2 linked regions of the Homo sapiens genome follow. The protein of the gene in region 2 purifies or fractionates together with the protein of the main gene of each other region. This does not show direct contact. Each region holds a gene or a part of one and is shown on either strand. Other genes may lie near its edges.

Region 1 (4,946 bases), on a different chromosome or scaffold from region 2:
CCTATCTCACAGGGTTGTTGTGAGGAATACTATTGTATGTACAATGCTTAGAACAGTGCATATTACAGGGTATGCCTTATTACTATGATGTGTTGGTTAGATATTCATGATCTTGTCTTCACAGTGTTGGTTATGAGGTAGGTTACTATCATTATCCACATTTTGCAGATGGGAAAATAGACTCAGATTACTAATTAGCACGAGACCACATGGCTCGTAAGTGGCCAAGAAGGGATTCAAACGCTGCACTATCCTGCCTGCCACAGGGGAGGGGAGCTTTGGGGATATCAGGGGTCCCTGTGGAAGAATGAGGGGAGTCAGAAGAGGCAATGCAGATGTGACTCCCTCTCTTCCTGGGTCTCACCCCGACCCTCTTCCCTTTACTTTCAGGGACCCTAACCTCCAAAAGAGGTACCCATTGGCGCTCAACCGAATTGCTGCTCAGGAGGTCCCCATTGAGATCAAGCCAGTAAACCCATCCCCCCTGAGCCAGCTGCAGAGAATGGAGCCCAAACAGATGTTCTGGGTGCGAGCCCGGGGCTATATTGGTAAGAGTACCCCATGGATGGGAGGAAACCACTCTCCAAGGGGTCTACCACTCATTTGCTGTGTGGCCTTGGGCACATGAGTTCCCTTCTCTGGGCCTGTTTCCTTATCTGCATGATGGGGAAGTTGGCTTAGCTTCTCACCTGGGCCCTCTCAGCCCTTTGCATGGGGAGAAGGTGGAGATGACTATAATCCCGACACAAGGCCTTTCTGAGGAAGGCAAAAGGCACCTCGCTGGGGTTGTTGTCCAGCTTTGCTGCTAACTATAAAGTATCTTTGTGCAAATTGGAAGAAGACACCCCTTTTGGGGCCTAGAGTGGGAGACTTGGGTGGTGAAGACTGAATTTCAGTCCCTGCTCACCCCTGCCCTCCCCAAGTCGCCATCTCACTTCTCCCCTATCACACACACACACTGTAGGCCAAGCGCTCTTGTGCAGCAACCAGTCTGCACACCCATGCACGGGAGTCCCTTTTCCCCCTACCTCCGTGCAGGTCCTGAGCTGGAAAGCCCAGGAGCCCAGGGCTGATGGGGACCTGTTGCAGGCGAGGGCGACATGAAGATGCACTGCTGCGTGGCCGCCTATATCTCCGACTATGCCTTCTTGGGCACTGCACTGCTGCCTCACCAGTGGCAGCACAAGGTGCACTTCATGGTCTCACTGGACCATTCCATGTGGTTCCACGCCCCCTTCCGAGCTGACCACTGGATGCTCTATGAATGCGAGAGCCCCTGGGCCGGTGAGTGTGGGGCCGTGTGGGACAAGGGCACTGACCTTGAGTGGCAGGAGCCTGCTTTCTTGGGTGATGCTGATTTCCCGACTTCCTGTGTGGCGCTGCACAGGTCACTTCCTTTCCTTCCCTCCCAGGCTTTGGCATCTTCATCTTCAAAATGAGAGGGTGAGGCCGGGACACCTGCTCTGCTCTAAATTTCTAGAATGTGCTGGAAATGTGATTCACCTTCTCCCAGGGACCCAGTTCTAGTCCCAAAACCAGTTCAGATTCTTTGTATTACAATAGGCAAATCATATCTTCCATCTGAACCTCAGTTTCCTCATCTAAACAAAGAGGGTTACATTACAGCAGTGGTATCCAAACCCGCAGTCCATCAGACTGCCATTTGGGGATGCCTTTTCAAAATAGATTCTGATTCCACCCTCAAGATTCTCACTCAGTAGGTCTTGGATAAGGTCCAGGAAACTGTATTTTTAAGTTCTCTAAGTGATTCTGATTAACCTGATTGGGATCGGGGCATTCAGTGGTCCCTAAGGGCCTGCTTGGACCTTCCTTGCAGGGGAGAGAAACAAGACTCGTTCATCAATGTCTAGCTTCAGAACCCTGACCTCCTTTCCAAGGGAGTACATTTCAAATGAAGAAAAGCTTTGCTTGATAAACCAAGGACAAAACTCAAGGATTCTTTATACTCAGATAAGGGGTATTCTCAAGTACCAATAGCATCACAATCCAAGATTGATAACCTTGAAGTGAGGACATGGGTTCAGATTTGGCTTCATCATGGGGCCAAATTCCTGACCCTCTCTGGATTTCAGTCCTGGTCTGGAAAACTGGACAACACATAACTGCTTCATTTGGCTACTGTGAGAACTGAGTGAGCTCTGCTATGTGTAAGGGAAACCAGCAATCATCCTCATAAACATCAAACTTGGGCCCAAAGCCAGCAAGGGAGAAAGAGTCTCCAGATGGGGAGGGAAGAGGCCAGACCTCATGGCCTCAAGTCCTCTCTTCTGAGTCCTTTCTTCCCCTTGGTGGTGGTAGTGGGGATATTTTTCATGAATTACCACTTGGAGGACCTGGCTTGATTTATTATACAGGGAGCCGATAGTTTTCCTAACACAAGTGGTCAGAGGTACAGCAGTTCTGCTTGGCCGAGCTGTTGAAGGAGACTGTTCTCAGAGCTCCTCCCTCTGTGATCTTTTTGAGGAAGCGAGGAGAGGTGTGAAAGTGCTTTTAAACTGTCAACTGGGGTTCCTGTGGGAGGAGTTACCCCTCAATGACGGTCCATAATAAGCTCATGAAGGGGCATTTGGAGCAGCCACGACACTCAGTGCACCCTTGTGTGGGGCAGCCCTGCCCTGGGCCAGACCCTTTGCAAGAAGTCCACTTGGAGGTTGGGCATGGTGATGTGCGCCTGTAATCCCAGCTGCTCAGGAGGCTGAGGCGGGAGGATCCCTTGAACCCAGGCGCTTGAGACCAGCCTGGCAACTTAGTGAGACTCTGTTTCAGGAAAAAAAAAAAAAGTGTATTTGGCTGTTCTGAAGCAGGCCATCATCACCCTTCACCTCACCCACAGGTGGCTCTCGGGGGCTGGTCCATGGGCGGCTGTGGCGTCAGGATGGAGTCCTAGCTGTGACCTGTGCCCAGGAGGGCGTGATCCGAGTGAAGCCCCAGGTCTCAGAGAGCAAGCTGTAGCCAGAGGTACCAGCTTCGCCTGGGGCTTCAAGAACCTCCCATCTATCCCCATTCCTGAGACAGGAGTTACAGTCCCTTTTGGCCCTCACATCCAATAAAGAGACTGATACCACTGGAGTGGCTGGCTTTTAATTCCCCTGGGCCAGACCTGCAGCCTTGCCTTCATCCCTTAACTCCAGGACTCCAGGGGCAGAGTCCCTGGCCTTCAGCCAAGAGGCCTTGCCAGCTTGGGGGCCCACCAACAAGGGAACATTGCCCCAACCTGTGCCACAGCCCCCCGGCTGTTTATAGGCTGGAGAGGCTGTGTCAGACTTCCCTGTACTACACAAGGGCAACCCCAGCCAAAGCTCACCCTGAGCCTAGCTCAACAGAAGTTTCCTTGATCTGCTTCACATTCTCTTTTGGAACTTCTAGGGGCTCCCAGCACCCTCTGCAGCCTCCCAGCTATTCTGTTCTCATCAGGTCCTTCCCCTGCCTTCTGGGGCAACCCCTCTCCTCACAGTGGCCTTAAATCTAGGCAAGGGTTAGTCCAGCACCTCCTTGATGAGCAATTCTTTGAGACTGGGGGGTGGTGTGGGGGTAAGGCCTGCCTCCTGCAGGGCTTGGAGCCGAGCCTCTGATTGACGTTTGTCCAGGCCCAGGCGCCAGGAGAGCCGGACATGGGCCTCCAGAAAGGGTGCCAGCAAAGGGTGGAGGCTCTTGTCCCCAAGCAGCTGCAGGGCCTTCTCACAGCATGCCCGGGCCTCTCCAGGGTCTTCCAGCTCCTGGTGGCACACGGCCAGCCCAGCCAGGGTCAGCAGGGGGCGGTCTGGGCCAGAGGGGGTGCCCAGCTGGGCTTGCAGCTGCCAGGCATTGGCCCAGAGTGCCAGAGCCTCACGATAGAGGCCAGTACAGGTGAGGCTCTGTGCCCGCCGCAGCTCCGGCAGCACGAAGAAGTCCTGCAGGTCCGGGGCATGGCGCAGCTCAGGCACTGCCTGCAGGTGACCCAAAAACTGCTCAAAGGCCCGGCTACGGCGGGCAATGGTCTCTGCAGTAAAATTCCGGCGCAGCCGCTTACGGGGGAAGGAGATGGCAGCCATTGGGCCCCGGAATTGCCGCTGCAGGTTTCGGTGCAGCCGCTCAAAGTCCGAGTAACGGCGAGAGATCTGGGCTGGCTGGCAATCTGGCGGTCCTGGGCCGATCACGGCGAGGGTGTAGAGCTGCAGGGAGGGTGGGTGTCAGGGCAAATGCAAGTTGTCCACGGGCCCGTTCCCTCCCCATCCTTCCCCATCCCCCACACTCCCAGCTGTACCTCCCCACCTCTTCCTTTCACCCCTGGGACAGCACCCAGGAGGGCGGGAGCTGCTGCGCAGTGGCGGGGAAGCCCAGTCCCATCTTACCTGAGGTTTGTCTGAAATGACCCAGGCCCAAGGCAGCAAGAAGAGAGAAAGACAGAGATGAGCTTCAGTGCCCGGGGCTGCTGCCCCTTTTTTTGTACTCCCTTCCCATAGAGCATTAGTTCTTCTGACAGCCCCCTCTGGAAAACCAGACATAAGCTGAAACCCCAGCCAATCTCTTGGGGCTCCTTTAGGACCAGCTTGGAGCTTGTTCCACTTTGGACACCTGGCCTCCACATCCCTGGTCAGGCTTTTCCAAACTAGACCCAGAGGACAGGTCTGTAGATAGCCACAACTGCCATAACTGTGAAAAGTATACTGGCCTAGGACTCAAGTTCTAACCCCAGGTCAGCTACTCCTTCTCTGTGTGACCCAGGCAAGGGAGTCCCCCTCTGGGTCCACTTCTGTTTCTAGTGAAGGAAGTGCTCGGTCAAGTCAGTGTTTGTCCAAAAATGAGACATGTACAAGTATTGGTACCTGAGGTTTTTAGGTGGTGTGCACTAGAGTAAATATCACTGTATCAGGAGGTTGGTCCCCTTTTAATTATTATTTTTTGAGACAGGGTCTCACTGTTGGCCAGGTTGGAGTACACTGGTA
Region 2 (4,957 bases):
ATGTACTGTTCAAAATCAGAGTGATAGCTATGAAGGATGCAAGGAAGGTGTTGAAAATTTTGGTCATGTTCTGTTTAATGATGTAAGTTTTGGTTACCTGGCTATGTTCAGTTTGTAAAAATTCAACAAGCTGTATACTTTTTATTTGTAATACTTTTCTCTTTTTTTTTTTGTAACAGGGTCTCAACCTGTTGCTCAAGCTGAGTGCTGTTGCATGATCACAGCTCAGTGCAGCCTCAACTTTCTGGGCTCAAGCAATCCTCCCACGTCAGCCTTCCAAGTAGCTGGGACTACAGACACACACCACCATGCCCAGCTAATTTTTGATTATTTATAGAGATGGAGGGGTCTCACTATGTCATCCAGGCTGGTCTCAAACTCCTGGACTCAAGCAATCTTCCCACCTCAGCTTCCCAAATGCTGGGTGTACAGGCGTGAGCCACTGCACCCAGCCTCTGATTTATAACACTTTTTTCTCTGTACACTGGTACCTCATAAAGTTTTAGACATTTCTCTAAAATGTGCTAAAACTTCTGTTCTAAATAACAAATTTAACACATTACTCATTCAAAACTAAAACAAGCAAAAATGGATTTAAGTCTTTGGAAAATTTAACATTAACAATAATATCGTTGGCCTACTTTCATACATCTATCCAAGTACACAATTTTTAGATGAATTCCCAATAACTTCTTTCTCATGACCTGATATTGGTTAGTAGCAAGCACAGTCAATTTTCCATTAATTGTGCTTTGTGAAAGACTAAGTACTAAGCCACCATTTTAGGATATAATCCCAAATATTTCTCTTCTAAACATAAAAAAAAATGTTATTTTGGTTTCAGCTTTTTACGCTCTTTTGTTATGGGTTGGCAAAAATATAAAAAAACAAAATCAAAGAAATCTTTAAAGCAGGCTATAAAGTTCGCTCCAAGAGGTTCTGTCATCATCTTAAGGGCTTTCTTCCACTCTAGTTTTCCCAGTAAGGAACTCTATCAGAAATGAAATAATAAAGGAAGAAGAGTTTTCAATGAAGAAATGAATATCTTAAAGAGACTGTTGCCTAGGTGTCAGGACCAAGCAAAACATGGACCGGGAGTTAACCTGATAAAAAAAAGATTAAAGATGGACAATATCCTGGCTTAAGTGCCTCTAGAAGTTCAAAATAGTTCCCTAAAACAAACACAAATTAAGAATTATAATTCAAATAATGAACACAGAAAAAGAGAAGATTAGAGGTAAAACATCGTAGGGTCAAACATAACATTTATTATACAAAACACCAAATGTGTTTTGACACATATATTCTTGATGTTAATGCAAGTCAAGTTATCCTAACCCACATATCAAGTTTTATTTTTATTTTACCTAAAGAATGACTACAAGTTGTATTTTTAAAGTTGATAGTGATATTTAAGTCGGTTCTCATTCGGCATATTATATCTGTTTCTATACTTAACAATGACAATTTTTCATTCATCTTCAGCAGAGGAACCTTTTTGTTATCAAACGTAACCTTTTTGTTATTCTAAACAACAGTATCACATTTAAATTACATCTTGAAAATAAGGGACAATTTCTCTAAACAGTCTCCCTACTGACCAACAGAATTTATTATAATTAAAAGAGCTTCCATAATACTTTCAAAATGAAGAAATAGCATAGGGAGACTATAACTATACTGACCAATACCAGTTAATAGCCAAAATAGGCATGATTCGGGTAGTTCTAAAACTATAAACACAGATGATCCTGAATTTAAAAAAAAAAACTATAAATCGGCTGGGCGCTGTGGCTCATGCCTGTAATCCCAGCACTTTGGGAGGCCGAAGCAGGCAGATCACGAGGTCAGGAGATCGAGACCATCCTAGCCAACATGGTGAAACCCCGGCTCTACTAAAAATACAAAAATTAGCTGGACATGGTGGCATATGCCTGTGATGCCAGCTGCTCGGGAGGCTGAGGCAGGAGAATCACCTGAAATGGGGAGTCAGAGGTTGCAGTGAGCCGGGATTGCGCCACTGCACTCCAGCCTGGTGACAGAGAGAGACTCCGTCTCAAAGAACAAAACAAAACTATAAATCAAATTTTCACATACCCACAACACAAACATGCAGTTAGTATATTCCCCCTATAAATTACTGTATAATTCTGATTATGAAGGATTCTAGAATGATGGAAAAATGGTATGAAATTATGATTCCACATTCTTTTATAACTGTAGATGAAACAAATATTGACAGTTGCACAACAGCATCTTCCACATACTTTACATCAAGGAAAATTTTGTTGTGACTAATAAGCTTTTCTAAGGATTAATAGAAATCTATAAAAACAAAACAAACAAAAAAACACCACTCTACCAAAAAATATCAAAACCTGAATCTGATCAAACCTCTAGATCCAATTAACAGGTTATCAAAAATATAGAGGACAGAGGAACATGTTAAATAATACCACAGAGATGCAATCTGCAAAACTCAGACTCTGAGAAACTAAATAAAGCAACCTAGTTTCTTCAACAAATAAGTCATAAGGGGAAAAAAGGAGATAGAGGATGGAAATTATAAATTAAAAGACTTTAGAGACAAAACCAATTACAACATGTCAATTTTATTAGGTTTTTGAGTCTATAAACTGATGTAAAAAATGAAGTTACTTATGAGACAACAAGAAATTTGAAAACCAGATGTTTGCTGATATGAAGAAATATGTTAACTACATTTAGGTTAAGAATCCATCTTTTAGAGACAAATACTGAAATATTTATGGGCTTTGCTTCACAAAAATATGAGACAGGGAAATGCTTCCAACACTTCTCCAGTAAGTATGATATTTGCTCTAAACTTTTTGCAGATACTCTTTATCAGGTTAAGGATATGTCTATTTCCAATTAAATTTTTATCTTATATAGATGTTAGACATTTATCAAGATGATCTCATTCCTCCTTTGGTCTTTTAATGTGGTAAATTACATAATATTAGATTTACTACTGTTAAACCAGTTATATCACAGAGATGTAGTTTGCAAAAATCTGCAAAAACTCAATGGGTCAGTGATGTAATGACTATAAAAGAAAATAAAATCTTTCTAGTGTTGGTGAGAGCATACCTGAAAAACTATTTCTAAACTTCACTGACAAATCAAAGAACACCTACAGGAAATGTCTACAGGGTAAATAGAATCTGACACTTTTCCTAATGGGGAAGGAATGTAGTATAATGGAAATAACATAAACACTGGGTTCACATCCTGACTCTGCGACTAGTTCTATTAACCTTGGGCCAATAGTCTCCCGGCCTGTTCCACATATCCCTATATGCTGCAGGATTTCTGAAAGGATAGGGAGATCAACTGAGAAACAGTTCAGTAGTTTGTTCTAGGTATTAAACTACTAAATGGCAGAGTCTAGGCTTAAATCCAGGATTTCTTACTCTAAGTCCACGATCTTTCCAATACTGTATACCATATCTCAGTAGATTCCATTTCATATCAACATAATCCAAATGAGTGAAGTTAACTCAGTTTTTAATGTCTAGTAATAACTTATAACATAATTCTCAAAGTATAGTCCAGGAACCCTAGTGGTTCTTGAGACCCTTTCAGGAGGTCTGCAAGGTCTCACATGCATAGTTTTCCAGAAGCTAGTGAAAAGTGATGTCCATAGCAGACTGAATACAGAAGCATATATGTGAATCCGGCTATTTTCTGTTAAGCTAGACATTAAAGACATTTGTAAAAATGTAAAATTTTCTACTTTTTTCAGAAAATAGTTATTTTTCATAAAACATTATTTGTATTAAGATATAATGGGTTTATTACTGCTATTTTTAAAAAATAATAAATATTATTACATTTTATTTTAATTTCAAATACAATAAATGTCAATGAATAAAACTCACATTAACAAAAGCCCTTTGGGGACCAAAGGATTGTAAAGGGGTCATGACATCAAAATGTTTAAAAATCACCAGCTTCGGACATATCTAATCCTTTACTAGATTTAACTACAAATAAGTATATAAAATTCAGAATAAATAAGGTGTTCAAAATGCTATGAACACCTTCATTGATTAAAAAATTATGTGGGGAAAGTCAGGAAGTGGGAAAACAATATGGTGTTATAGAAAGGACAATACTTTTATATACAGAAATCCTGGGTTCAAATGTACTAGACATTTCCCTGAGTAAGTTACTGAACCCTCTTAAGCTTCAACCTCTTTGCCTATAAAATAGAGACACTGGCAAACTGCCTTACCTTCTTCTCCAGGTTAAGAGAGTCAAGTGAGATAATGACTATAAAACGCTATTTCAATACATTATATTGAATATTGACAATGAAAAAAAAAACCACTACATCACTACAAACATAAAATCATAGCTATTATTAAAGTTTACCTCTGTGACAGACAGATGGACACTTATGGTTTCTACATCCTAAAGTCCGTCCACAGTTTTGATCACAAGGTGGACAGTTTCCAGGGCAACACTGAAGAGAAAGCAATATATAAAGAACAGGTAATTCAAAAACCCATGAATAATAGGCATGTCATTACTAGTTACAGAACTTATGGAAAGCAAAAGATACACTTTTCACTAAAAGAAGTATTCAAGAATATCAACATTCTTCTGGTAAGTAAACATACTTCACTAAGAACTTATGATGACCTAATTTAACAAATCAAGCTAAATTTTCCTGACTTTCAGTTAATTATTCTATGATTCAAAACATTTCCATCAGATAATTTCATTCCTTTATCTATGCAGAGACTAACAACATTAACCAAAGGAATGTCAATTCAGGAAAACAATTAGTCTGGTTTTTAAAAAAAATTTAATTAAAATCAAATTCAACGTATAGATTCATTTGGCAGTTATTTATTTTCTTTTTCTTTTTTTCTTTTTTTTTTTTTTCTTGAGACAGAGTCTGGCTCTGTCTCAGGTTAGAGTGTAATGG

What was found. The genes of interacting proteins can lie anywhere in the genome.
Region 1: the proteins of NFXL1 (region 2) and SNX21 purify together in Homo sapiens (co-immunoprecipitation; one large-scale study listed by IntAct). This does not show direct contact.

What each region holds. Positions count from the first base shown.
Region 1 is NC_000020.11:45,839,865-45,844,810, reverse strand, and holds the end of SNX21 (sorting nexin-21), read right to left. Parts: exon of another isoform or gene 4,506-4,946; coding exon of another isoform or gene 4,353-4,505; intron 4,173-4,352; coding exon 3,498-4,172; 3' UTR 2,974-3,497; coding exon of another isoform or gene 2,855-2,973; 3' UTR 2,779-2,854; coding exon of another isoform or gene 2,768-2,778; 3' UTR 1,535-2,767; downstream 1-1,534. Other genes in the region: ACOT8 (acyl-coenzyme A thioesterase 8), read left to right, coding at 391-548, 1,090-1,284, 2,855-2,973. UniProt on the Homo sapiens protein: Binds to membranes enriched in phosphatidylinositol 3-phosphate (PtdIns(P3)) and phosphatidylinositol 4,5-bisphosphate. May be involved in several stages of intracellular trafficking.
Region 2 is NC_000004.12:47,886,215-47,891,171, forward strand, and holds part of NFXL1 (NF-X1-type zinc finger protein NFXL1), read right to left. Parts: intron 4,490-4,957; coding exon 4,399-4,489; intron 1-4,398.